Linked DNA regions of Homo sapiens. The protein of the gene in region 4 interacts with the protein of the main gene of each other region in a biochemical or structural test. Each region holds a gene or a part of one and is shown on either strand. Other genes may lie near its edges. The genes, in order: RALA, ARL14, ARL11 and PLD1.

Evidence for each region.
Region 1: the proteins of PLD1 (region 4) and RALA form a complex in vitro, tested with the Homo sapiens proteins (2 studies listed by BioGRID).
Region 2: of the proteins of PLD1 (region 4) and ARL14, one has a biochemical effect on the other in vitro, tested with the Homo sapiens proteins (one study listed by BioGRID).
Region 3: the proteins of PLD1 (region 4) and ARL11 form a complex in vitro, tested with the Homo sapiens proteins (one study listed by BioGRID).

What each region holds. Positions count from the first base shown.
Region 1 is NC_000007.14:39,703,543-39,708,642, reverse strand, and holds the end of RALA (ras-related protein Ral-A precursor), read right to left. Parts: intron 2,521-5,100; coding exon 2,398-2,520; 3' UTR 523-2,397; downstream 1-522. UniProt on the Homo sapiens protein: Multifunctional GTPase involved in a variety of cellular processes including gene expression, cell migration, cell proliferation, oncogenic transformation and membrane trafficking.
Region 2 is NC_000003.12:160,673,239-160,678,948, reverse strand, and holds ARL14 (ADP-ribosylation factor-like protein 14), read right to left. Parts: upstream 1,790-5,710; 5' UTR 1,603-1,789; coding exon 1,024-1,602; 3' UTR 501-1,023; downstream 1-500. UniProt on the Homo sapiens protein: GTPase that recruits MYO1E to MHC class II-containing vesicles via the effector protein ARL14EP and hence controls the movement of these vesicles along the actin cytoskeleton in dendritic cells.
Region 3 is NC_000013.11:49,624,606-49,631,507, forward strand, and holds the start of ARL11 (ADP-ribosylation factor-like protein 11), read left to right. Parts: upstream 1-3,901; 5' UTR 3,902-4,010; intron 4,011-5,824; 5' UTR 5,825-5,842; coding exon 5,843-6,433; 3' UTR 6,434-6,902.
Region 4 is NC_000003.12:171,800,451-171,807,501, forward strand, and holds part of PLD1 (phospholipase D1), read right to left. Parts: intron 1-7,051. UniProt on the Homo sapiens protein: Function as phospholipase selective for phosphatidylcholine. Implicated as a critical step in numerous cellular pathways, including signal transduction, membrane trafficking, and the regulation of mitosis.

The DNA.
Region 1 (5,100 bases), on a different chromosome or scaffold from region 4:
TTCTAGCACTGCTTATGAGTTACGAAATTAAAATGAACCAGATTTTGAAAGGTTGTGCTCAATATTGGGCTGGATTGTTTCTAACTTGCAGGCTATTCGATAGTTAATAGGCCACGCTTCCCTCCAGACATCAAACGTTGGCCTGAAGCTTGGTGAAATGGTACAGGGTGTCATTCTTCCCACAATTTGGAAATTGTCTCTGGGGGTCATTCTGATTAGAAAATGAATATAAAGCTGTCACCTATTCATTCTAGAGTTTGGAGCATTCTAAAAGTAATGTACACATTTGTCATTTCATGACGGCATAGAATATCTTCAATGTAGTTGTACACGAGTCCTTCCATTTCTGAGCCTTGATTAAATCTGAGCAATGCTGACACTGTTATTTAGGAAATCTGGCATTACACAAAAGAAGTCTCCAAACTGAGAGCTCAAAAGATTTAGTTGTTTGGTAAAGATGCCTCATTTGATACATTTGAATGTTACATGTTACATTGTAAACATCAAGTAACACCACAAACATTTTAAAAAAGGAAGTTTATTGGTCTTTAAATGGCTCAAATTGCAAATAAACAAATCGGGTAGTGGCATCAGCCTAAGACACGTGATGCATCTTTGTCAGTTGGCTTCATAGCACCTCAGTACCCAGGAGAGGAAAGGTCTCAAAGCAAAGTCACAATGTTAGTGGTTAGGACCCCTGGTTAAATAAGACTGTAATAAGTACACATGGAGATTGCTGGGCCCGCTGGCCAGTGTTACATTGGTAACTTGAATTCCGCACATGGCATAGCCTATGAGAAATACGAAATGAAAGATGTACATCTCAAACCCTTTAAGGACAAATATTTAACATGAGAAGCTGGATGTAAATATCTAAAGAGTGAGTTCCTAAAAAGCCTATTTTTAACTTTACATACACACCTGTTACCTGGAATGCCTGAACACATCTTTGACCTGTTCAAATTAGGACTGAGAAAAAAGAAAAAAATACTTTGTTGAATCAACTGTCCTAGCCCCACTGCAAAGAGGAAAAAAAAAAAATCGGTCAGTGGCATATTTCCCACTGAAATTATGTCCCCAAGTAGCATGCTAGAATTCTTCCAGCAGGTACACCACACAATGGTGACACAGCCTAATGTGTGGTCAGTGTGTGCCACGTTTTCTGCACTATACCCAGGTTTGATGGCTTGATGTTAACTTCTGAAAATGTAGCTACAGTGTTCTTCATTATAAACAGAAACAGAAAAGAATTACTCCTAATAATTCCTGTATCAAACTGTAACTTTATGAATATAAATTTAGAAATGAACAGATGGCAAGCATGAATATTTTCCCGAAGCGTTCTAGTGCAAAATGCATTAGCACTACTGACATTTTCTTCCTATGCCCTGCTCCCAGATTAAAAACTTAACACTTACATGCTCACCACTAGCAGAAAGGGATTTCCAGGGACCAGAATCTCAGAGAAAAGGAGGGTTCATTCAAACATAACTGGTGCTGAATCCTTGCAGCTGAAAATTATCTTGCAAGTATATATGCTGGCCCTTCATTTAAAATGAACTTGCAGTTTATTAAAAGCGATCAAAGAGCTCTGGAATCTTATTTTCAAGAACCAGAATATGGCACACATTTTAAATTTGGACAGACTTCTAGCGGACAGTTACTTCTCAAGAATTTTCTATACAAAAGCTGTGCCAGGCATATATTTTCTCACCAGGACACATGGGGCAGCGGACCCCTGGTGTCAGTAAGAACACACCCAGAATGATATAACCAGATATTTTTCAGTTTCTAAATTAAGGCATATTCAAAAAATTCCATGTACAAGTTTACACCACTTTTCTAAGTTACTCACCAGGTAATTAAAGCAGATTCACAGATGAATTACTCTCAGTTTAACTATATGCAACAACCATGCCAATAACTTTTCTTCTAAATTTTGCATAATAATGGTTAAAAAAAGTGGTAGTTTAACTATCATGTTCACAATTGTCATTTTTCAAGGCAGTAGAAGACCAAGACATTTTAAAATGATATAAAATTTAAGCTTTATAATAAACACCAGAGGAAGTCACCTTTCCTCCCACTCCCCACCCCCATTTCACCTCTTCAATTTCAAGAAAGACTGCCCAAGAAACACAAGCTTACACGCTACATTCAGGACCATGATAAATGTAGGCAATTATGAAATAAGTTGAACTTTGCTTCTTGGTGAAGCCATATTAATTTCTTTTTAAAGTAAATTTGACTTTCATTGCAGTTCCAATTCATGCTTTTAGTGATATACAACAATTTCCAAAATGTTAAAGTAATTTCAGTCAATTAAGCCTTCAATGGCAATGCTTATAAATTATATTTATTAGTATGGTCAAGATAAGAAAGGAGTTTGGGCTTTGATTATAAAATGCAGCATCTTTCTCTGATTCTCTTGGCTAAACTTTTCCTCTTCTTTTTTCCATTCTTTTCTTTGCTGTCTTCCATCTTTCTCGCTCGAATTTCTCTCATTAAATCAAAAAATACCTAGAAAGAAAAAAAATAGGATAAATAAAGCAAACAGATACATGAACTTGGTACTTCTCCAAATCACAGCAGTAAACTTTGGGGGTAACAGAAGTATAAATATTTAAGAGCTCTTGTTTGGGAGTACAGAGCGGAAAGCATAAAACTAAAGCCTGATTTTCCTAGTATCTTGAAAAAAGGAGGAAACTAGGAAGTTTTCTGAATTACACTTTATGGTAAAAATGTTCATATGTAATAAAACCTGATCTTTCTGTTCCAGTTTTCGAGACAAAAGTCTAAAAAGTTCTATAAGGTGATGACAGACCCAAAGATAGAACTCAATGGATTATATTTAAGTAGTTTATAATCAATAAATGTATTTTATTAATTTATATTTAATAATATATGCTTAAATTTATATTTAATAATTTGATTATATTTCATAACTTGGTTTCCTCAGTTCCATTTTTAGAAATGAAGCTGAGGAAGATGGGTGTATGCTTTATCATCTTGATACCAGACACTATGAAACAACTTTGTCTGTTACTCTGTATTTGAGAATTTATCAGTTTTTGTCTGATGTCTAGGAACCGGTAAATAATGAGATATTAGCATAGTAACTAAGAAAATTACGAGTATAACAATTCAAAGTTAAATTTCAATAAGAAATTCCTCTGTTCTGTAACACAGAAGGGTCTGGAAGGCTACACACTCACACTCCTACTCCACATAAACGGCTGAGAGTATATGATAAAAGGAGGAATAACTTTTATGATCACTTTTGAATTCTGGATTTAAAAAATGTTTTTACTTATAGAATTAAAAAACTCAGACTAAAGCAAGAAATATGAAAGCGACAATGAGTGCTGTGAGTAAAGAAGCCTGTGTATGTCATGACTGATGTGGCCTTTCCTAACGCGTCTGAAAAAAGCAAGGCACAGAATAGCAGATGGAGCGCTACCTGTGTGTGTGTGTAGGGCAGGAGTATACATGGATTTGTTCGCCCTTGCACAAAGAACAATGAAATAATAAACCAAACCCTAATAATCAATTTCATTTTGAAGAAGGGAGGAGGGTACAAGGAAGAGTGAGGCATCTCTGAGTGTATCTTGTTATAGAATTTCTACTTTAGAGACATAGGTGTTTTACGTATTCAAAAATAAAATTAGGCCAGGCATGGTGACTCACACCTGTAATCTCAGCACTCTGGGAGGCCGAGGCGGGCAGATCACCTGAGGTCAGGAGTTCTAGACTACCCTGGCCAACATGGTGAAACCTCGTCTCTACAAAAAATACAAAAATTAGCTGGGTGTGGTGGCGGGCACTTGTAATCCCAGCTACTGGGAAGGCTGAGGCACAAGAATTGCTTGAACCCAGGAGGTGGAGGTTGCACTGAGCCGAGATTGTGCCACTGCACTCCAGCCTGGGCGACAGAGCAAGACTCAGTCTCAAAAAAATAAAAATAAAAAATAAAACAAAATAGCAAATCCTAAAAATTGAAAATCAAATTAAAATAAATTAAGACTGGCCAGGCGTGGTGGTTCATGCCTGTAGTCCCAGTACTTTGGGAGGCTGAGGTGGGCGGATCACCTGAGGTCAGGAGTTCAAGACCAGCCTGGCCAACATAGAGAAATCCCATCTCTACTAAAAATACAAAAATTAGCCAGGTGTGGTGGCGTATGCCTGTAATCCCAGCTACTCGAGAGGCTGAGGCAGATCACTTGAATTCAGGAGGCGGAGGTTGCGGTGAGCTGAGATCGTGCCACTGAACTCCAGCCTGGGCAACAGAGTGAGACTCCATTTCAAAAAACAAACAAACAAGACACAAACAAGTAAGACTGACTAGAGGAATTATTTCAAAGGTCTATAAGACAGCATAGAAAGTATCTATTTTAGAATAGATGCTAAGGATAAAAATAGAAACAAAATTCCAACAAAACAAAACAAAGACAAATCTTAAACTTCTTTTTTTTTTTTTTTTTTTGAGAGAGTCTCTGTTGCCCAGGCTGGAGTGGGATGGCGTGATCTCAGCTCACTGCAACCTCTGCCTCCCGGGTTCAAGAGATTCTCCTGCCTCAGCCTTCCAAGTAGCTGGGATTACAGACAGGCACCACCATGTCTGGCTAATTTTTGTATTTTTAGTAGAGACGGGGTTTTGCCATGTTGGCCAGGCTGGTCTCGAACTCCTGACCTCAGGTGATCTACCTGTCTCAGCCTCTAAATGTGCTGGAATTACAGATGTGAGCCACAACACCCAGCCAAACTTCATTTTGTAGTTTGTTTGTGACAGCAATGTTGCTCTTTTGGAACTATTTTATTAATGCAAGGGAGGAATTATGTTAATGTAATTTAGGAACCAAGATCTTCAGTGTAAGAGAAAAGATACAAGTACAAAATCAAAGATGTAAACATTTGTAATGTTAAATTTGAATTGGAAATAACAACATGATCACATTTTTTTCTTTTAATAATACCTATTTCCTAGAACTATTCACTGAAAAATGACAACACAATAGCAACAAGCAAATTATGTAACTATGCTGTGGCTGCTAAATATCATTCCTCCTAAACAGAACCTGAGTTCCTTAGATGAATGGCTGA
Region 2 (5,710 bases), about 11 Mb from region 4:
ACCTGTACCTTTGTAGGGTCACTGGGAGTGAGGGACCCTCTAAAATACCATCTCCTGCATGAAACATTTCTTGTTTCCCTGGTTAAAAAGAGTATCTCCTGCAATCGCACTTAGCACTTATTGCCCTACTCTAGCTACTAGCTTTATGTTGTTTCCTGCTGTGAATTGTAGGTCTCTGAGAGCAAAGTCTAGGTCTGGTTCCTGTTTGATCAGTACAATGAGCTGCACATATGTTTCCAAGCAATGGCTGTTAAGCTGAATTCCAAGGAAGCAAGACTCGGGGCTGTAGCCTAGAGCTAAGCCCTGAGCCCAGATCTTGCCCTAAACTCCAAGGTGCTACCCCGATCACCAGACCTTTAAGTTTATACACTTCTGCTCCCTATGGCAGAACACAGGCTCTGAGCAATTAGCAGCCTGAAGTTCATTGTTTAAGATTCATTGGAGGAAGTTCCCAGCAATAGATTTCAAAAAGCTGGCAGGAATCCAGAAGAACAGCTTTATTTAGGGAATAAGAAAGCTTTATTTAATAGGGAATACGAATTTACAAGATATTAACATTACGCTTTTTCCACTCCATAATTTGAAGTTCATTTTTTACACCACCCAGCTGTTACATAGGAGCACGGTGGAAATTCAATACCTGTTACAGCTGGAAACAATCTGGAAGAATTCTGACTCTATTAGCAGACAGCTTACTAAAACTTTGTTCTAGTAGTCATATAAAATAATTTATTTGGTCCCAAGTGTCACTACTATATTCAAAGTCATCCAATGTGATAACAAAAATTGTAGAACATTATACGTTTTCATTCCCAGTGATCATTGCCACAGTTTGCTAAAGTTCCTGGCTGAAAATAAATATTTTCTAGATATCATTCTAAGTTGTTTAACTAAATGTAGATGAAATAACATCTCAGGAAAAGTTTGTCAACTCATTAATTTGATTTCCTCATTTGGCATGGAAAAACAATTACCCTTTCAACTTCATCAGTGTCTCTGTAGAGACTTGGATTTTTCGCAGCCTCAGTTCTGCTTGAAGAACGCCAAAGTGTCTCCTCTTGATTTCATGTGGCTCTTCACAAATCCAGTTAATTTCCTGAACCCCTGGGCCAGCCCCTCCCCTGTGAGGGCACAGCAGGGTTGCACATACCAGTTCCGGTCACTGCAAAGCTTCTTCACTTTGAACATTCTGGTGATGTCCTCAGCAGTCAGAGCTCCAGGCATGTCTTGTTTGTTGGCTAATAGAACAACAGGCACATTTTTAATGTGTTCATTCTTCAAAATGTGCTCAAACTGTCTCTGAGACTCTTCCAGTCGCTGTTTGTCTGTACTGTCCACAACATACACCAGCCCATCGGTGTTCTCACAGTAACAGCCCCAAACAGTTCTCATTTTTTCCTGTCCTCCAACATCCCAGACTGTGAGTGAAAGATTCCTTTCCAACTCGATCATTTCCACATTGAAACCTATTGTAGGGATGGTGGTAATATCCTTAGCAAGCTTTAATTTATAAAGGAGAGTAGACTTCCCAGCTGAGTCAAGTCCCAAAAGAAGAACTTGGGCTTGTTTGGTTTGCGGATTTTTAGAACCCAGCGAACCCATTTCAGCCTTTTTCTCTCTCTGTCTCTAAATACCTTTTTTTTTTTTCTTTCTTTCTTTCTTCGAATGGCCAGAGACAATGTGTCCTTTCTGGATCTCACATGAAAATGTTAGGAAGAAAGAAGAAAGCAAATTCTTCATGCTGTATTCTAAGAACAAGAACCTAGATGTGTTTATGTTGTAGCTTATCAACTTGATTATGGGCAAACAGTATTTTATTTGCAGTCCCAGCCAATCCTGAGGGATCTGTGGTATGAGTAACCAGCCAATGCCATGGTGACTCAAAGGGGAAATTCTCTGTGAATGAGTAAGATTAGGAGAGGCCTACCTGGCTGATGCTGCAGTTTTGTTTTCTTTCAGGTGCTAGAAATCTAGAGGAACCTGAAGGTTCAGACACGCAGAGGAGCATGGTTTAGTAGCAGAATAAAAACTTAACTTTTCATTTTAACTAACTTTTAACTTAAATTTAACTAAACTTTTTGTGTAACTTTTTGTGGAACTTCTCTAGGTATTCAACCATTTATCTTATCCCAGTTGTAAATAAGGAACCAGGCTTCTTAAGTTGTGAAGAGAGAGTTATTCTCACACTCTGTCTGCAGTATCTTAAATCCGCCTTGTTCAGATTACTCAGTAGGAAACTTTAAACCACTCAAGGTTATCTGAACCTTACTCCCTAATCACATACAGAATCACTTTCTTTAAAATTCTAGGCAGAGAATTTACACTACTGCAGTCACAAAACCAAATATATGAGGGGGAATTTATAACACGAACAGTTTTACATTAAGCAGTCCAATTAAAGATGGCAAATAAAAACATGCATTTATTTCCTCTCCTTCCCAAGACTCCACAGAATAATGGTAAAGGCATTAAAAGAACATATAGGCCAGGCATGGTGGCTCACGCCTGTAATCCCAACACTTTGGGAGGCCGAGGTGGGTGGATCATGAGGCCAGGAGATCAAGACCAGCCTGGTCAACATGGTAAAACCCCATCTCTACTAAAAATACAAAAAAATTAGCTGGGCGTGGTGGCCCGTGCCTATAATCTCAGCTACTTGGGAGGCTGAGACAGGAGAATCGCTTGAACCAGGGAGTCGGAGGTTGCAGTGAGCCGAGATCGCACCACTGCACTCCAGCCTGGTGACAGTGAGACACTCCGTCTCAAAAAAAAAAAAACAAAAAAAACATATAAATCCATAACAAAACAGCAAGATAATTCATCAAAGGGTCAGAAATTTTAACAAAATTCTGGAAAATGGAAACTAGATGGAAAAATGAGTGATAACTGATATAGCAGGATAAAGCCAAGGCTTGGAGTGCTGATGCAGAGGAGATAGACAAGAGGTGACAGGTATGGCAGACAGAAGGGGTGAAATAAAGGACTAAAAACAGCAGAAGGTAACAAGAAGCCAAAATAAACAGAACACACACACACACACACACACACACACACCCCTCTGCTGGGTGTCTTCAGCAACTAGATGTTTATTCCCAGGCAAAATACTGAAGAGTTTTTTATTAAAGAAATTGAATGATCTCAGAAAAAAGATCTCCATGTTTTGACAGTTGGGAGTTTCTGACCATAATGCCAAAGTCAACATGTAATTAACCTATAGCCAACCTGGCAGTTGGCAAACTTGCTCACATACATAGAATTCCCAATCAGCTTTGCAGTGCACAGAAGTTTCTATACTTAATGGATAGCATGCCTTCAATATGAATAAGAGAGAGACCAAGATAAAAATAAGAACTTTTAAGAAAGCTTAAACAGAGCTAATGAAGGGAACAGAAGAACATTTTCATTAAATTCTAATTACTATTTTTATACAGACTTGAGAAGATATTACATCCATAAGACAAGAAATGGATGGTATTAAACAGACCACTCAGAGAATAAAAACAAAACTCCTAAAAATTAAAAACACAAATTTCAAAAAATTTTAAAGATCAGTAATACCTGTAGGCTGGAAGACAATATTGAAGGAGTCTTTCAGAAAGTCGAAGATAGAAAATACAGAAGAAAAGATAAGACATATAGAGGATGAACTCAGAAATCTTAACTCAGAAGTCTGATTTATAGGACTTATTCCAGAGAGAAAAAAAATATGCACAAGAGGAAATTATCAAGAAATAATATGGGACCACTTCCCAAAGCTAAAGAATGAACTTGCCAGATTGAAAGACTTCCCTCAACGCTTACCAACATGATTTTTAAAAGAGCTATACCATGTGATATACATGTTTTCTTATTAAAACTAAAAATTTATTTAGAGTTTTTACACAAAATAAGTAGACTATTTTAGATGCAGAAAGCACACGTATGAAGAAATTCTGTAACCTTTTATAAAGAATTAAGTTCTTAACCAACTCACTATATCTCAGAGGCTAAAGATACTGTTTTGATTTGTTCATTGATTTATTCATCTAACCATTCAGGAAATAAACATATTGATGGCCTAGTCTGTGCTAGATGCCAGAGAGATCACAAAGATAAACTAGGCTTGCCTTTAGTTGACTTTCACTGGGGAGAAGGTAAAAGATATGTGACCAAATAAAAATACATACAAAGTCAAAAAATTATACATGCTACAAGAAAAGAAAGGCTAATGTATTCTAGGTATTCACAGACTCTTTCAGAATGAAAGGCGTCAGAGAAATCTTCCTGGAGAAGGTTAAGTATTGAACCAGGCCTTGTAGAGACACGTGAGGGCATACATGAAAGAAACAGTCTGTGAGAGCAAAGTCTTAGAAATGGGAAAATATGGGGATGTATGTGGAAAACCAACTGTATATGGATAAGTAGGGGTTTCTTCCATAAACATTTTGAACTATCATGATAAAACCATAAGATAAATCTAGATTATAGGCCATGCTGCAAGACAACAGACTTGGACTCTACAAGGTAGGTCCATGTCATGAAAGACAGAAAGGAAAAAAAGGATCGGGGGAAGAATGTTCTAAATAAAAGATACATGACTACTAAATGCATTGTGTAAACTTTTATTGGATCCTGTGTCAATAATAGTGATTAAGGAAATTACTATAACAATTATGAAAATTCAAATTGGGGAAACTTGATTATGAACTGTATATTAGATGGTATTATTTATCAATGATAAATTTCTTGAAGGCAATAATTCAATTGTTATGTAGGAAGATGATTTTGTTTCAAGGAGATACAGGCTAAAGTACTTAGGGGTGATATCAGCAAGTTAATTTCAACTGGCTCAGCAAACACATGCACACAAAGATATGTATGTATATGGGAGGGAGGAAGTGTGTGTAAATATGGCGATAGTTGGTGGCTCTAGGTCAGAGGTATTGAATGTTCATTTTACTATTTTTTAACTTTCCTCTAGATTTGAAATTTTTCAAAATAACATGTTAAAAAAAGAATATAATTGAAATAAGCTAATAAAATTAGACTGTAGTCCATAGTAATACAGAAAATAATTCAGCTTACTTAGGGGTAAGTCCGTACTTCCAAAGGTGAATTTAGGGACTTTGACTGCACTACTGCTTAAGCTCTTTCTCACCTCCATATTTCAACAATTAAAATTTTTGAAAGAAGTTAAACATTTATTTTATAATAAACTCAATGATTTGAGTGCTTTATGAGGTCTACCGTTGGTATTGGGGACATCCTTTAATATATTTTTGCTGTAATGAGCATGATCATACATATATGCCTTCATTGTCTCCCATCTGACCAATTATACCTTGTTTTCGGGATAGCCAAACAAATGAGGGCTTAAATTCTGCATGAATATTATATCCACATAAGAATATGATTCTCTTCTGTGAAAAGAAATAAGATAATTTCTTTGTCAATGCTAATTGTCATGAAAGAATCTACAAATGTTTCAATATCCTTTCTTACTGTCCCAAAACATTTATGGATTCATGTGTCCCAGCCAAACTTGAGGGAAGGCAAGGTATTTGTTTTCTGTAAATCATTCTAAGATTACGCAAATAAAGGTAGACTTGTGAGAGAGTTACTGGCAGGCTAACTGTGGTGTCACAGGAAATTTGTTTTAAAATATGGGAATGAAAGAAACATTTTCTTTAATTTCTTACCATGGAGGTGTGAGGCAAAAAGTCCTAAGCTC
Region 3 (6,902 bases), on a different chromosome or scaffold from region 4:
ACCGCCCCAGCTCTTGGGTCAAACAGATCCCATAAGAAACATCAGAAGAAGCATCCTGGCTTACAAGTTATTTTTTGGTGAGTGCAATGGGCGTGCCGTGCTCCTCCAGGCCTGACCACCTGTATGAGAGTTGGCAGGAGGACATTTCTAAACTCACACTCTTAGGGCAGTAGAGATGGGGCCTAAGACCTTTGTCTCTCCTGGTATCAGTGAGCCCCGTGTAGCCCCTTTTCCTTATTCCAGGTCTGGAAGCTGCAGTCACAGACACACAAAGGTGCTGGGGCTTGCACATTCACCAGCGTCACTTTCTCCAGCCACACCACTACGTTTGAGGGCTCTCCTGTCCTTCTCTAACAGAACTAGTCTGGGACTAGACGCCAGGCTTTGGGCTAAGTACTTGATGTGTCTTCACTTATTAAATCCTTCCAATAACCCTTCAAGTTAGGTACCATTATTATCGTCATCAACCTCATTTTATAGAGAAGGAAACTGAGGTGCAGAGAAATTCAGGTTGAGGTTCACAGCAAATAAGCAGTGGAGGCCAAGTGTGCCCCCAGGTGGACCCAAATCAAAGCCACACTGTTACCTTCTGCTCTGCGCTGCCTCCCGGGGCAGTAGCCCTCGTGAGCCTCCCCACGTTGGGGTGTCTAATGAAAAGCTTCCCTGCTGGTTGAGCTGAAGGGGTCAGGGTCGGGGCTGTACAGAGAAACTCAGGCCACAAGGGCCTTTGGGCAGAACTGGGGTCACAAAGTAATCATGGTTTCCCAGCGAACACAAGACTTTGGCCCTCAGGCAAGGCTCCTTGATGTCTGGGGGAGCCTGTGCCCCCCAGCAGTGCTCACAGATCCACCCCTGACTGCCAGCCGGCCCCTTGATGGCGGTGCCTGTCTCAGATTCTGTGGTCAGTGCCACGCAGCTACCTCCAGAGGCAGCCTGCAGCCTGGCCATGTGGCCCCAAGCTCCAGGCTAGAGGCCAAGGGGAGTGTCCCTTCTCTCTCTGTGTCACCCAGGGCATAGGTCACCCAGGCAGCCTGGCATGGTGCCTCCAAGCCACTGTGCTAATGCTTCTACAGCTTCTGCTCCCTCCCTGCCTCCATGGGGCCCAAACCTAGCCCTGGTGCTGCTCTGGGAACTGGGTCAGAGCAGCACCCCAGCTCCCCCACCCCCAGGAGCCCCTCAACCTTGGCCTGCTGTCATCCTCGTCCGGCCCCAATCTTCCTGCAAATCGGGCCCTTGCAGGATTCCTGCTGACTCAGCAGCTGGGCCCGGACAGGACTTAGTCCCAGCGTGAGCCGATCCCGCTGCAGTTTGGGCGAGAATGACAAGCCCTCCACCAGACGATTCTTTATTGCTCTGAGACTTCCCTGGGATAATTCCACCCCCAGGAGCACTCTATCTGTTTCTGTCTCCTCCCCACACACCCCCTGGCCTTGAAAAAGGATGATCACTGACCACAGGCACTGAAAAGAGCAAACCAAGAGCAGCATCAATACCCTCACACAGTGGTGCACATAACACACTTTGAGTTTCTGACTTTTCCTAATCAGTTCTTCCTGCTAAAATACAGTAGCTTAACAAAAACAATGACAACAACAATCTGGTGTTTGCCATTTACAAGGCACTTTCTGTGTGAGTAGCATGACATGGTAAAAGAGAAAGAGATGAATTATAAAACGCAGCAAGATCATGAGTCAATGATTCACCCTGTCCCAGCCTGCTTCTTTTTTTTTTTTTTTGAGACAGAGTCTTGCTCTGTCACCAGGCTGGAGTGCAGTGGCGCGATCTCAGCTCACTGCAACCTCCGCCTTCCGGGTTCAAGCGATTCTCCTGCCTCAGCCACCCGAGTAGCTGGGACTACAAGTGTGCGCCACCATGCCCAGCTAATTTTTGTATTTTTAGTAGAGATGGGGTTTCACCATGTTGGCCAGGATGGTCTCGATTTCTTGACCTTGTGATCTGCCCGCCTCGGCCTTCCAACCGAGCCTGCTTCTTTTCTTGTAAAATGGAAGAGTCATAACATCCAACTTGAGTCTTGATATTTTAATGAAATAATGCATGGGAAAGCAGAAAACAGCACAAAGATTACTGGTTATAAGAGCTAAATCACTGTGACTCCATATCCAAATTCAATACCTACTGAATCAGTGGTTTCTGACTAGTCAATTTTTTTTCTTTTTTTCTTTTTTTTTTTGAGACAGAGTCTCGGCTGGGTGCAGTGGCTCACACCTGTAATCCCAGCTCTTTGGGAGGCCGAGGCGGGCAGATCACTCGAGATTAGAAGCTGGAGACCAGCCTGGCCAACATGGCAAAACCCTGTCTCTACTGAAAATAAAAAAATTATCCAGGCATGGTAGCACGTGCCTGTAATCCCAGGTACTCGGGAGGCTGAGGTGGGAGAATTGCTTGAACCTAGGAGGCGGAGGTTGCAGTGAGCCGAGATTGTGCCATTGCACTCCAGCCTGGGCGCCAGAGCGAGACTCCATCTCAATTAAAAAAAAAAAATAGGAGAGAGACAGAGTCTCACTCTGTCTTCTAGGCTGGAGTGCAGTGCTGTGATCTCAGCTCACTGCAGCCTCCACCTCCTGGGCTCATGCAGTTCTTGGGCCTCAATCTCCCAAGTACCTGGAACTACAGGCACACATCACCATGCCTGGTTAATTTATTATTTTTTGTAGAGACGTGGTTTCACCATATTGGCCAGGCTGGTCTTGAACTCCTGAGCTTGAGCGATCCTCCTGCCTTGGCCTCCCAAAGTGCTGGGATTACAGGCATGAGCCCCCATGCCCGGCGACTAGCCAATTTTTTAAAAATTACATTTTCTAGAGGTGTCATTTTTACTGGGAAAAACACAGTGACACCATTCAAGAAAAAATTGAACGGTAACTTTAATCACTACATTAACACAATTTTAAAGGTTGATCTGCATCATACATACCTTTTAAAGAATGTTTTCATCATATGTAGACAGCTTTTTTTGTTTTTTGTTTTTGTTTTTGTTTTGAGGCAGAGTCTCGCTCTGTCACCAAGGCTGGAGTGCAGTGGTGTGATCTGGGCTCACTGCAACCTCCGCCTCCCGGGTTCATGCCATTCTCCTGCCTCAGCCTCCCAAATAGCTGGGCCTACAGGTAGGTGCCACCACGCCCAGCTAATTTTTGTATTTTTAGTAGAGACGGGGTTTCACCATGTTAGCCAGGCTGGTCTCGAACTCCTGACCTCGTGATCCACCCACCTCAGCCCCCCAAAATGTTGGGATTACAGGCCTGAGCCACCACGCCTGGCCATAGGCAGCTTTTAAAAGAACACATGTGCAGCCTGGCCATCATGGTGAAACCTGTCTTTATGAAAAATACAAAAATCAGCTGGGCATGGTGGCACCTGCCTATAATCCCACTTGCTTAGGAGGTTGAGGAGGGAGGATCGCTTGAGCCCTGGAGGCGGAGGCTGCTGTCCAGCCTGGGCGACAGAGCAAGACTCGGTCTCAAATAGAAAACAAAACAAAACAACAACAACAACAACAACAAACCATGTGTGATTCCAAGCAAATCAGAGAATCTCTAGCCACCAGAAAAACCTTGAGGCATGTACTGAAAGGAAGAGGTCAGAATTCTCTGCGAGGAGCTCAGAGGATCCTGAGGGAAGAGAGAAGGCGGCTGCGCTTGGACACAGCTCCGAGCTCGTGCTCCCTCCTTCAGGCACCCAAGTCTGAGTTGCTAAAAAATGGAGCTGTCACTGGGCCTTGCTCTGCCAGGACCTGCAGAGCCGGGGACCTCTCTGTGGCAAGCCCAGCAAGATGACTGCTCTGAGGCGCCCTAGGGCTGAGGGAGGGGCCGTGACACCAGCCCCGCCCCCCAGCCACCTGGGAAAAGGAAGCACAAAAAGGAGAAGCAGCAACGGCTGCTCTGCTTCCTTCCCATCTCGCTCTTGGGTCATGCCTGGCCAGCAGAAAGCAGCTCCATAGGGGAGGAGAGCCACGCAGGATCTCACAGCTGCAGTCTAATAGTAACACAGAGGTAATTTTAACTTTTTACTTTTCTACCCTTGGGAGTAGGGATGAGTAGAGGCTTACCTCCTTCCAGAGGCAGCTCATATCCCCCCACCCCCATTCCCGGAAGTTGAGATGTCTCTTCTCTGTTCCACGCAGGCATCGTCTAAGTTGGGAACAGGTCTTATGTCTTAAAATTTGGGATTCTTTAAAAACATATGTGGCTGGGCACAGTGGCTCACGCCTGTAATCCCAGCACTTTGGGAGGCCGGGCAGGTGGATAATTTGAGGTCAGGAGTTCAATACCAGCCAGGCCAACATGGTGAAACCTCGTCTCTAATATAAATACAAAAAGTAGCTGGGTGGTAGTAGTAGCTGTAATCCCAGGTACTCGGGAGGCTGAGGCAGGAGAATCCCTTGAACCTAGGAGGCGGAGGTTGCAGGGAGGCAGAGGTTGTGATGAGCCAAGATTGCACCACTGCACTCCAGTCTGGGTGACACAGTGAGACCCTGTCTCAAAACAACAACAAAAATGTGTGATGGCACATGCCCATAGTCCCAGCTACTGGGGAGGCTGAGGTGGGAGGATGGCTTGAGCCTGGGAAGTCGAGGCTGCAGTGAGCTGTGATCATGCCACTGCAGTCCAGCCTGGGCGACAGAGTGAGACCCTGTCTCAAAACAAAACAAAACAAAACAAAACAAAAAAACCCAAAAACAAACAAAAAAGCACATGTGGAGTGTTGTAGAAGTCATTGACCTTGGTAAGACAGTGGAGGAAACTGCTTTGCTCTGACTCATAAATTTGCCCCCAGTAAACAGTATTTATAAATAGCCCCAGTCAGGCACTGCATGAAGACATTTCAGTCAACGACAGACCACATATACAACGGTGGTCCCATAAGATTATAACAGAGCTGAAAAATTCCTATTTTTCAGCTTAGTGTTGTGGTGCAACCACTACCTTTTCTATGTTTAGATACACGAATACTTAGCACTGTGTTACAATAGCCTACAGTACCCATTACAGGAATGCTGTACCGGTGTGTAGCCCAGGAGCAATGGGCCATACCATATAGCCTAGGTGTGGAGTAGACTAGACCATCCACGTTTGTGTAATTACAATCTATGATTTTGTAAAATGATGAAATTGCCTAATGAAGCATTTCTCAGAATGTGTCCCCGTCATTAAGTGACACCTCACTGTGTTTCCAAGACATAGTACTGGTCCTTGGGAAGCTCTAAAGAGAGGTCACCGTGAGCTGAACCATCCTTCTCACTCTGTGCATGGAACCCAGCTTAGCTTCCATTTCAGCATTTAGGCTTATAGGAGGAGAAGAGGTTAGAAGCCACAGACCAGCAAGAATTGAAGACATCGTTCTGTAATTTCTACTGAACCAGCTCTGTCTGACTGGAACTTCATTTTGCCTCTTTGCTTTAACTCCTCAGGAATGTCTTCCAGGAGGCCCCTGATCTTCTCTGCTCAGGGACCACTCTTATCTGACCCAGAGACAGGTTAGCTGATGGTGACTCACACATCCTCACTTCCTTCAAAGCCCAGGCATCTGTTTAAAATCTGACCCTGTGAAGACTTTTCCTGTTTTGGAAAAACTCTTCCGTTGTTTGCCTGCACAGATTTGTGCTCCATTTTTAATTTCAATTTTTGTAGAGAAGGCGGGTCCTTGCTTTGTTGCCTCGGCTTGTTTGAAACTCCTGGGCTCAAGTGATCCTCCTGCCTTGGCCTCCCACAGTGCTGGGATTACAGGTGTGAGCCACTGCACCAGGATGGATTTGTCTTCCTTCAGAAGACAGTAGCTGATGTGTGCCCTGGCCTTTCTCCCCTAGGATTCAGCAGTGGCCACCATGGGTTCTGTGAATTCCAGAGGTCACAAGGCGGAAGCCCAGGTGGTGATGATGGGCCTGGACTCGGCGGGCAAGACCACGCTCCTTTACAAGCTGAAGGGCCACCAGCTGGTGGAGACCCTGCCCACTGTTGGTTTCAACGTGGAGCCTCTGAAAGCTCCTGGGCACGTGTCACTGACTCTCTGGGACGTTGGGGGGCAGGCCCCGCTCAGAGCCAGCTGGAAGGACTATCTGGAAGGCACAGATATCCTCGTGTACGTGCTGGACAGCACAGATGAAGCCCGCTTACCCGAGTCGGCGGCTGAGCTCACAGAAGTCCTGAACGACCCCAACATGGCTGGCGTCCCCTTCTTGGTGCTGGCCAACAAGCAGGAGGCACCTGATGCACTTCCGCTGCTTAAGATCAGAAACAGGCTGAGTCTAGAGAGATTCCAGGACCACTGCTGGGAGCTCCGGGGCTGCAGTGCCCTCACTGGGGAGGGGCTGCCCGAGGCCCTGCAGAGCCTGTGGAGCCTCCTGAAATCTCGCAGCTGCATGTGTCTGCAGGCGAGAGCCCATGGGGCTGAGCGCGGAGACAGCAAGAGATCTTGATCCAGACAGAGCAGCATATCTTTGCTCATACAAACTAGAAGAACCAGCTGATCCTTGAGAAATTTACGCTTAGTCTATCAAACAAGAAATGCTGGCTTGGCCCGGTGGCTCATGCCTGTAATCCCAGCACTGTGGGAGACCACGGTGGGGGAATCCCTTGAGCCCAGGAGTTGGAGAGCAACATCACAACACCCCATTTCTACTAATAATCAAAAAATTGGCCGGGCATGGTGGCATGTGCCTGTAGTCCCAGCTACTTGGGAGGCTGAGGCAGGAGAATCGCTTGAGCCCAAGAGGTAGAGGTTGCAGTGAGCCAAGATCGCGCCACTGCACTCCAGTCTGGGCAACAGAGTGAGACCCTGTCTCAATAATAATAATAATAATAATGATGATACTCTAAGAAAAAAATCTCAACATACTTCATTTAATAGCTCGTTACCAAGTGTGAATGAAGCAATATGTCATAATA
Region 4 (7,051 bases):
CACCCACCTTGGCCTCCCAAAGTGCTGAGATTACAGTCATGAACCACCGTGCCTGGCCCAAACATAATTTTTAAAAGGCAAATATACAATAGTATGTTTTCTAAATGAGATGCTCTGATTAAATGTGGTATTTAGAGATGCTCCAGAAGTCTGCTGTCTACATCCCTGGACCCAATCTCTACTCCAATGCCAGCCACCTGTCTTAGTCCACTCAGGCTACTGTAACAAAATACCATAGACTAGGTGGCTTATAAACAACAGAAACTTACTTCTCACAGTTCTGGGGGCTAGGAAGTCCAAGATCAAGGTGCTTGCAGATTTGGTGTCTGGTGAAGGCCTGCTTCCCCAGAGGCTGCCTTTTCACTAACCCGTCACTTAGTGAAGAGAGTCAGAGGTCCCTCTCTGGCCTCTTTTATAAAGGCACTAATCTCATTGATAAGGGCAGAGCCACCATGGCCTAATCATCTCCTAAAGGCCTCACCTCCTAATACCATCACCCCTTGGGGTGAGGATTTCAACATATGAATTTGAGGAAGACAAATATTCATACCACTGTACTGCCCTGAAACAAAGCAGTTTGAAAATCACTATCAAGGAAAATTGGAACATACAATCATTATAAAAGCCAGCCCATTTCAGGAGGCCTGGCAGGATTCTGCTGCACAATTCAGTCCTGCCTTTGGATGACTGCATTAGACTATAAGCTGTGGGGCTGGAACCACATTTTAGACTCACTAGCCTAGGCCTAGTACTGTGTTAGCACCAAAAAGACTCTGTGCTTGATAAATTCTTCAACACCATCCTGAAGAGGGGCTATTGCAAATACAGGATGAAAGCTTTCACTGCCAACTTTATTGGCCTTCCAGGCAATGGATCTGCAAAAATTACTTCACTGTCAGTCAAACCTACCCCGTGTATCTGGTGAGATCAGACAGGACGAACATATCCAACATGCGTTTCTGGCATGCCTTTCTTTTTGTTTCTTGTTTTTGTTTTGAGACGGAGTCTCGCTCTGTCACCCAGGCTGGAGTGCTATGGCACGATCTCAGCTCACTGTAACCTCCACCTCCTAGGTTCAAGCAATTCTCCTGCCTCAGCCTCCCAAGTAGCTAGGATTACAGGCACTCACCACCACACGCAGCTAATTTTTGTATTTTTAGTAGAGATGAGGTTTCACCGTGTTGGTCAGGCTGGTCTTGAACTCCTGTCCTCAAGTGATCTACCTGCCTCAGCCTTCCAAAGTGCCGGGATAACAGGCATGAGCCACTGTGCCCAGCCTATGGCCTGCCTTTCTTACAAAGTGATACACATTTCCCTAGTCCCCATGACACTACCAAAAACCACCCCGGTAGAACTCAAAAAAGGTAGGAAACAGGAGTTTCCCCAAATCAGTCTCATTTATGTTACGATACTTTCATGTTTAATCGATCCATTCTATCACAGATTATACACCCACATGACAGATGCAACTGAAACAAGTTTTTGCAAGCTCTCTGAAAACGACAGGAGGCATTCACATAGAAAGCTACAGATTTTATTTCTCATCAGTTGAGAGCAGCACTTTGTTCCAAATTGCAGTAATATCTCAGCAATGAATCATTGTCATAAAAACAGCAACATCTGTGAGGTCAGAAAAGAACAATTAGGAAAACAAATGAATCCCTTGGGAACCAGGGTTCACACTAACATCATATATTTATATAACAACTTGGAAAGGTAGTCATTCAACAAGTAGTTAGTGAGCACCTACTACATGTCAGGAAAGTCCCTACTCTCATAAAGCTTAAGTTCTTGTGTAGAAAACCCAGTAAGCAAGAAAAAGAGAAAAGAAAAAGAATTTCAGATAGTGGTGAATCCTAGCATGAAAATAACCCTAGGTGAAAGGCTGGAACAGGATCAGGTAGCAAGCAATGCAATGTGGACTGTGAAGTGAGGCAGCTTTCAATGGTCAGGGAAAAAACCTTTCCAAGGAGATAACATTTGACCATTTTGTCATTGATCCAAATGACAAAAAAGAAGGAAGCCATGCAAAGACTTAGGAGAAGTGTGCTCCAGGCAGAGGGAATAGCATGATTAAAAGGCCCTAAGATGGAACAAAGCTTGATGTGTTCTAAAAACAACCTTCCTAACAAACTCTGGAGATAGGCAACTGTAGTTCAGAAAGGTGAGAAACAAGTTGATCAAGGTTACACAGACGCTAAAGTAGAAATGAAACTTAGCACACCTGACTCCTCTGATAGTCTCCCTGCAACACGCTAGCTGCCTTCCTAGTTAGAAACCCAGGCTCCAATGAATGAGCATGAGAAATCAGGCCAATGGGGCAAAGAGTGGCCCCTGATTACCAAGTTTCACAGGATCAGAATTTGAGTTCAAACATAAAAATCGAGGCTACCATACAATGTGGCCAGGGTCCAGCAGCCCAGATGACCTGATTCTAAGCAAGGTACACAGGTGCCAGGGCTGGAGAGCAAGAGCCCACAAGAGGGGCCCAGAAGGCACATGGGGTGATCATCAAACTCCCAAGGGAACTTACAAAATACTATTTTGAGTCCCATTCCTCAAGAATCTAAATTTATTACATATGTGATAGAACCTGGAAATTTGTATTTTAAGAAGTTCCCAGGTGATTTTGTTTAGCCAGACTTTGGAACTACTGTGATGGAGAAGGAGGGAAGGCCAGCTCTTCAGGAGGTTGCAGGGAGAATTCTATCTCTACAAAAGGAAGAATCAAGGGTTAAATTGAATGCAGTTGAGACTTGTACCAGACCAGATCATAGGCACAGAGAGATAAGAACATTGCATAACTAAGCGTATTCCTTTCTCCCCAACCACATCCCCAAATTCAGAATCACTGTGACGGTTGACAGAAAAGTGCAGGAGAAATCTCTTTGGTCATAATGAGAAAGAAAGATGGGGTGGAGAAGCTCGGATATACCCCCTGGGCAAAGCCAGTGGTGTGCTGAGAAATGCTTAGCAACCAGGTCCGGGTGGAGGAGAAACCCTAACTGTAGTGTTTGCCAATTTCGATGGTGTAAATATTCCTGGAAGGCCAAGGCAGGAGGATCACTAGGTCAGGAGTTCAAGACCAGCCTGACCAACATGGTGAAAGCCTGTATCTACTAAAAATACAAAATAAGCCTGGCATGGTGGTATGCACCTGTAATCCCAGCTACTTGGGAGGCTGAGGCAGGAGAATCGCTTGGACCTGGGAGGCGGAAGTTGCAGTTAGCTGAGATAGCACCATTGCACTCCTGCCTGGACAACAAGAGTGAAATTCTGTCTCAAAAAAAGAAATTCCTATCATGGCCGCTTCCAAGTTACCAACATGATATCACTAGAACATACAGTTTGGGGAAGACGTGCAATAGTTACAGTATTTTCACCATATAGAAATAATAAACATAAATAGCATAGAGAGCAATAAATTTAGTAAAATAATTAGTAAGTCAGAGGTGTGGGTATTTATTATCTTTTAAAAATAGTTTTAACATCACAGTGATGTTAGTGCCAAAAATATACTTCATCCCCAAATTCTGTACTCCTACCTTACCTCTTACCTCTTTTTATTCCAAAGCAGGAATAATGGTGACATTTAAAAAACAATATCTAAAACATCATCTTCATTTTTTTTTCCTATTCTTAGCCCCTTTGGTTAAATTTCTCACTTTTGGGTCTGTATCTTCAGAGGACCACTGCCCTACACATCTGGAAATGTTTTTCTGCTCCAAGTCATAAATCTCCAATCCCAACCCATGGCTACCTACTCAAACTCTTTATTTCAAAGGACTCCTTCATCAGAAATTGGGCAGAAAAAGATCAATGAAGTGAGTACAGCTGTTTACCCAAAATGCCACAGACTGTCCATTCTACATCTACACATTTTATTTTTAAGAATAGTTAAATGGCACCATAGAGCAAATAAATAAGTAAAACGTTAATTATAAAGACTTATTTTCTGGAAATACCTATGTATTTTGAATAAAATGGATTACACCTTCTCCCTTCATCCATGTACCCTTTCATTCAGTTCACATCTATTGTACACTACAATGGACACTGGAGACACAAAAATGACAAAAACACAGTCTGTGACCTCAAGGACCTTGCCCTCTCACACGGAAGACAGACAATAGAAAAAATAATGGCAAATCCAGTGATTCTAATATCACACTACATATAAAATCCACCCATGGAAAGTGGCATAAACCAAACTAGACTAGACTGTTATGAAGATCCCAATCAGGGGCTAAGAGTTCCCTTGTATCTTATTGTCCACATGCTTTGTTGATTAGCAACAGTTTAAACATTAAGATCCCATCAAGATAAACCAAAGGAAAGATCATCTCCAACTGCTTATGAGATTTTGAAGGCATCATCCAGTGGTAACACACTGAGATGCAAGGCTTTTTGTAAAGAATTGACAAAGGTATTAGCTCCCTGCTTCCTATCTGTGGCCCTCTGCCAATGCCTCGTCTCTGCATTTGTTTCTCCCCTCCCTTTCTACGGCTTTCCTTTTCCCCATGTTTATTCCTATTCTCCTTCATCTAAATGTGCCATCTGTAAAAGCCTACTTTGAAAAAGATCACTGTTAAATTCTGAACCCTTATTTTCCTGTTCTTAATATAAAGTTCATAAGTTTATGGCCTCAGAAGTCTCTCTCTCTCTTTCTTAACAAAAGAACTGACTAAACTAAGTTATTTTTATTTCCATGTTGCTTTTGGCTGGTTTTCTTTTGTGCGTCAGAGGCTTCCAAAAGGTTCCCAACTCTAGATCCAAAAAGTTCAAAAAATGATTGAGTACAGAATAAAATATTGCCCTCATCCAGAGGGGAGCTGAGGGTCACGGGCATTAGGAGCAACGGGGGAAGCAATCCAGGATTCTGGAGCCCTAGGAAGCAAGACCTGCCATGACCCAGTCGGCCATAATGTGGGCCCTTATTTAGCAGATTAGCTCTAGTATGGTCATAACAATTATTAAAATATTGAAATGCTTCCCTCTGGAAATATTGCACATAACACCCAACCCCTTCCAAATACACCTGGCCTCCCAGACTCTCCCAGGATCCCTGGCCCAATCTCCTCACAATCAGGAGTTAAGGCCTGGCCCAGCAGAGGATCTCCAGGACCCTGCCCCAGTGCTTCTACCCTTTGACATACCCATGCTCCACCTTAATTTCGTTTTCCGAAAAATAAAGGACTTGAACAGATTGTCTGAGTTGCACTATAATTGCAATTATGTCAAAGAACAAGGACGAAATGGAAATAAAAAAACCTAAAAAAAAGTTTGTTAAGAGGATGGAATCACAGGTTATGTTTTTTTCTAGACAGACAGCAGTGTCAAAACTCTGGGTGCAAGCTGCCTGGGATGGATCCCCAGCTCTACCATGTGCTAGTTGTGGGATCTCACTATGCCTCAAACTGCCTCATCTATAAAATGGGCATAGGCCAGGCTCAGTGGCTCATGCCTGTGAATCCCAGCACGTTTGGAAGCCAAGGTAGGAGGACCACTTGAACCCAGAAGTCTGAAACTAGCCTGGGTGACATAGCAAGACCTCATCTCTACAAAATAAAATACAGTAAAACAAACATAAATAAATAAATTAAACGGCCATAATAAGATTACCTACTTTACAGGGTTGTTCTGAGGGTTAAATGTATTCATGTTTGTAAAATGCTTAGATGAGTGCAAGGCACAAAGTAAACACCACGTAAGTGTTTATTAAATAAATAATTCATTTTATTCTGTCGTTGTAATGTTTGCTCAATAAATTTAAAAATTAAGAAAGTTTCACAACAGAAAAAAAACACTGTGACACTATGAAACACTTACGTAACATACACTTTTGCTTAATAACCCAGCACTAAAACAGCTGGGGTCCAGATTTTACACTGCACTGTGAATTTAGGGAAACTAACACACTGGAATGTGTTCCCACTGAAGCATAAGATGCGATTTGTATGATTCTCTTTGTAATCAGAAATGTCACAGGCTTATGGGAAAGTTAGGTTTACATGTTTCTCATTTTAACCCTGCAACAACTTTTAGCCACACCCTAGCAAATACATTTTATTTTGTGGTGCTAAGACTTAAAGGATTGTAAACACAAAACCAGACCTTGCAGAGCTACAGCTTTTCTTGTGAACACAATGACTCAGCCTAACTACAAGTTTAAAGAGACATATCTTATGTGTTGGGTCCCCTAGTATCAATCTTTAGTAAACATCTGGGATGGACAGGAAATTGCTACACACTGCTTTTAGTTACTAAAAAGGCAACACTACCTGAGCTCAAGCATAGTTTAGATAGGTACTATTTGCACTGCTATAGAGGACAACACTGACAATTGTTATTTTTCTGATAGATACTCAGGAGAGGAAATGATCAATAACAATAATTCCCTTACGTGTTCCTTCCTCTTGACAGCTAAACCCCACAATACCCTTAGACACAAGTTTAAATACATCACAAGCTTATCCTCAAACAGTAATGTATTAGGTCTTTCCTGCTGTAGATAAGATTTGTTAAACAGTCTGGCTATGGCTTTTTACCTTTTCTCTTTTAAAAGTGCATTTCTCAGCTGGGTATGGTAGCTCATGCCTGTAATCCAGCACTTTGGGAAGCCGAAGTAGGAGGATTGCGGGAGCCCAGCTGTTCAAGACCAGCCCTAGCAACACAGTGAGACGCCATCTTTATAAAAATACAAACAAAACTGGCCAAGGATGGTGATGCGCACCTCTAGTTCCAGCTACTCAGAAACTGAGATGGGAGTATCACTTGAGCCTAGGAGGTCAAGGCTGTTGTGCCACTACACTCCAACCTGGGCAACAGAGTGAGACCCTGTCTCAAAAAAAAAAGTTTAAAAGGTGCATTTCTCTAAAGCTACGAGAAGGAACTCAAACCTTGCTTAGTGATAAAACTAAAGCCTGCAACACAACCATTATCATTAAAATGTTATTAAAACCCTGTAAGAAAGATGAAGAGTCTTGTGGATGGATGGTGGTGACGGTAGCACAACGATGTGAATGTATTTAATGCCACTACATGTACACTT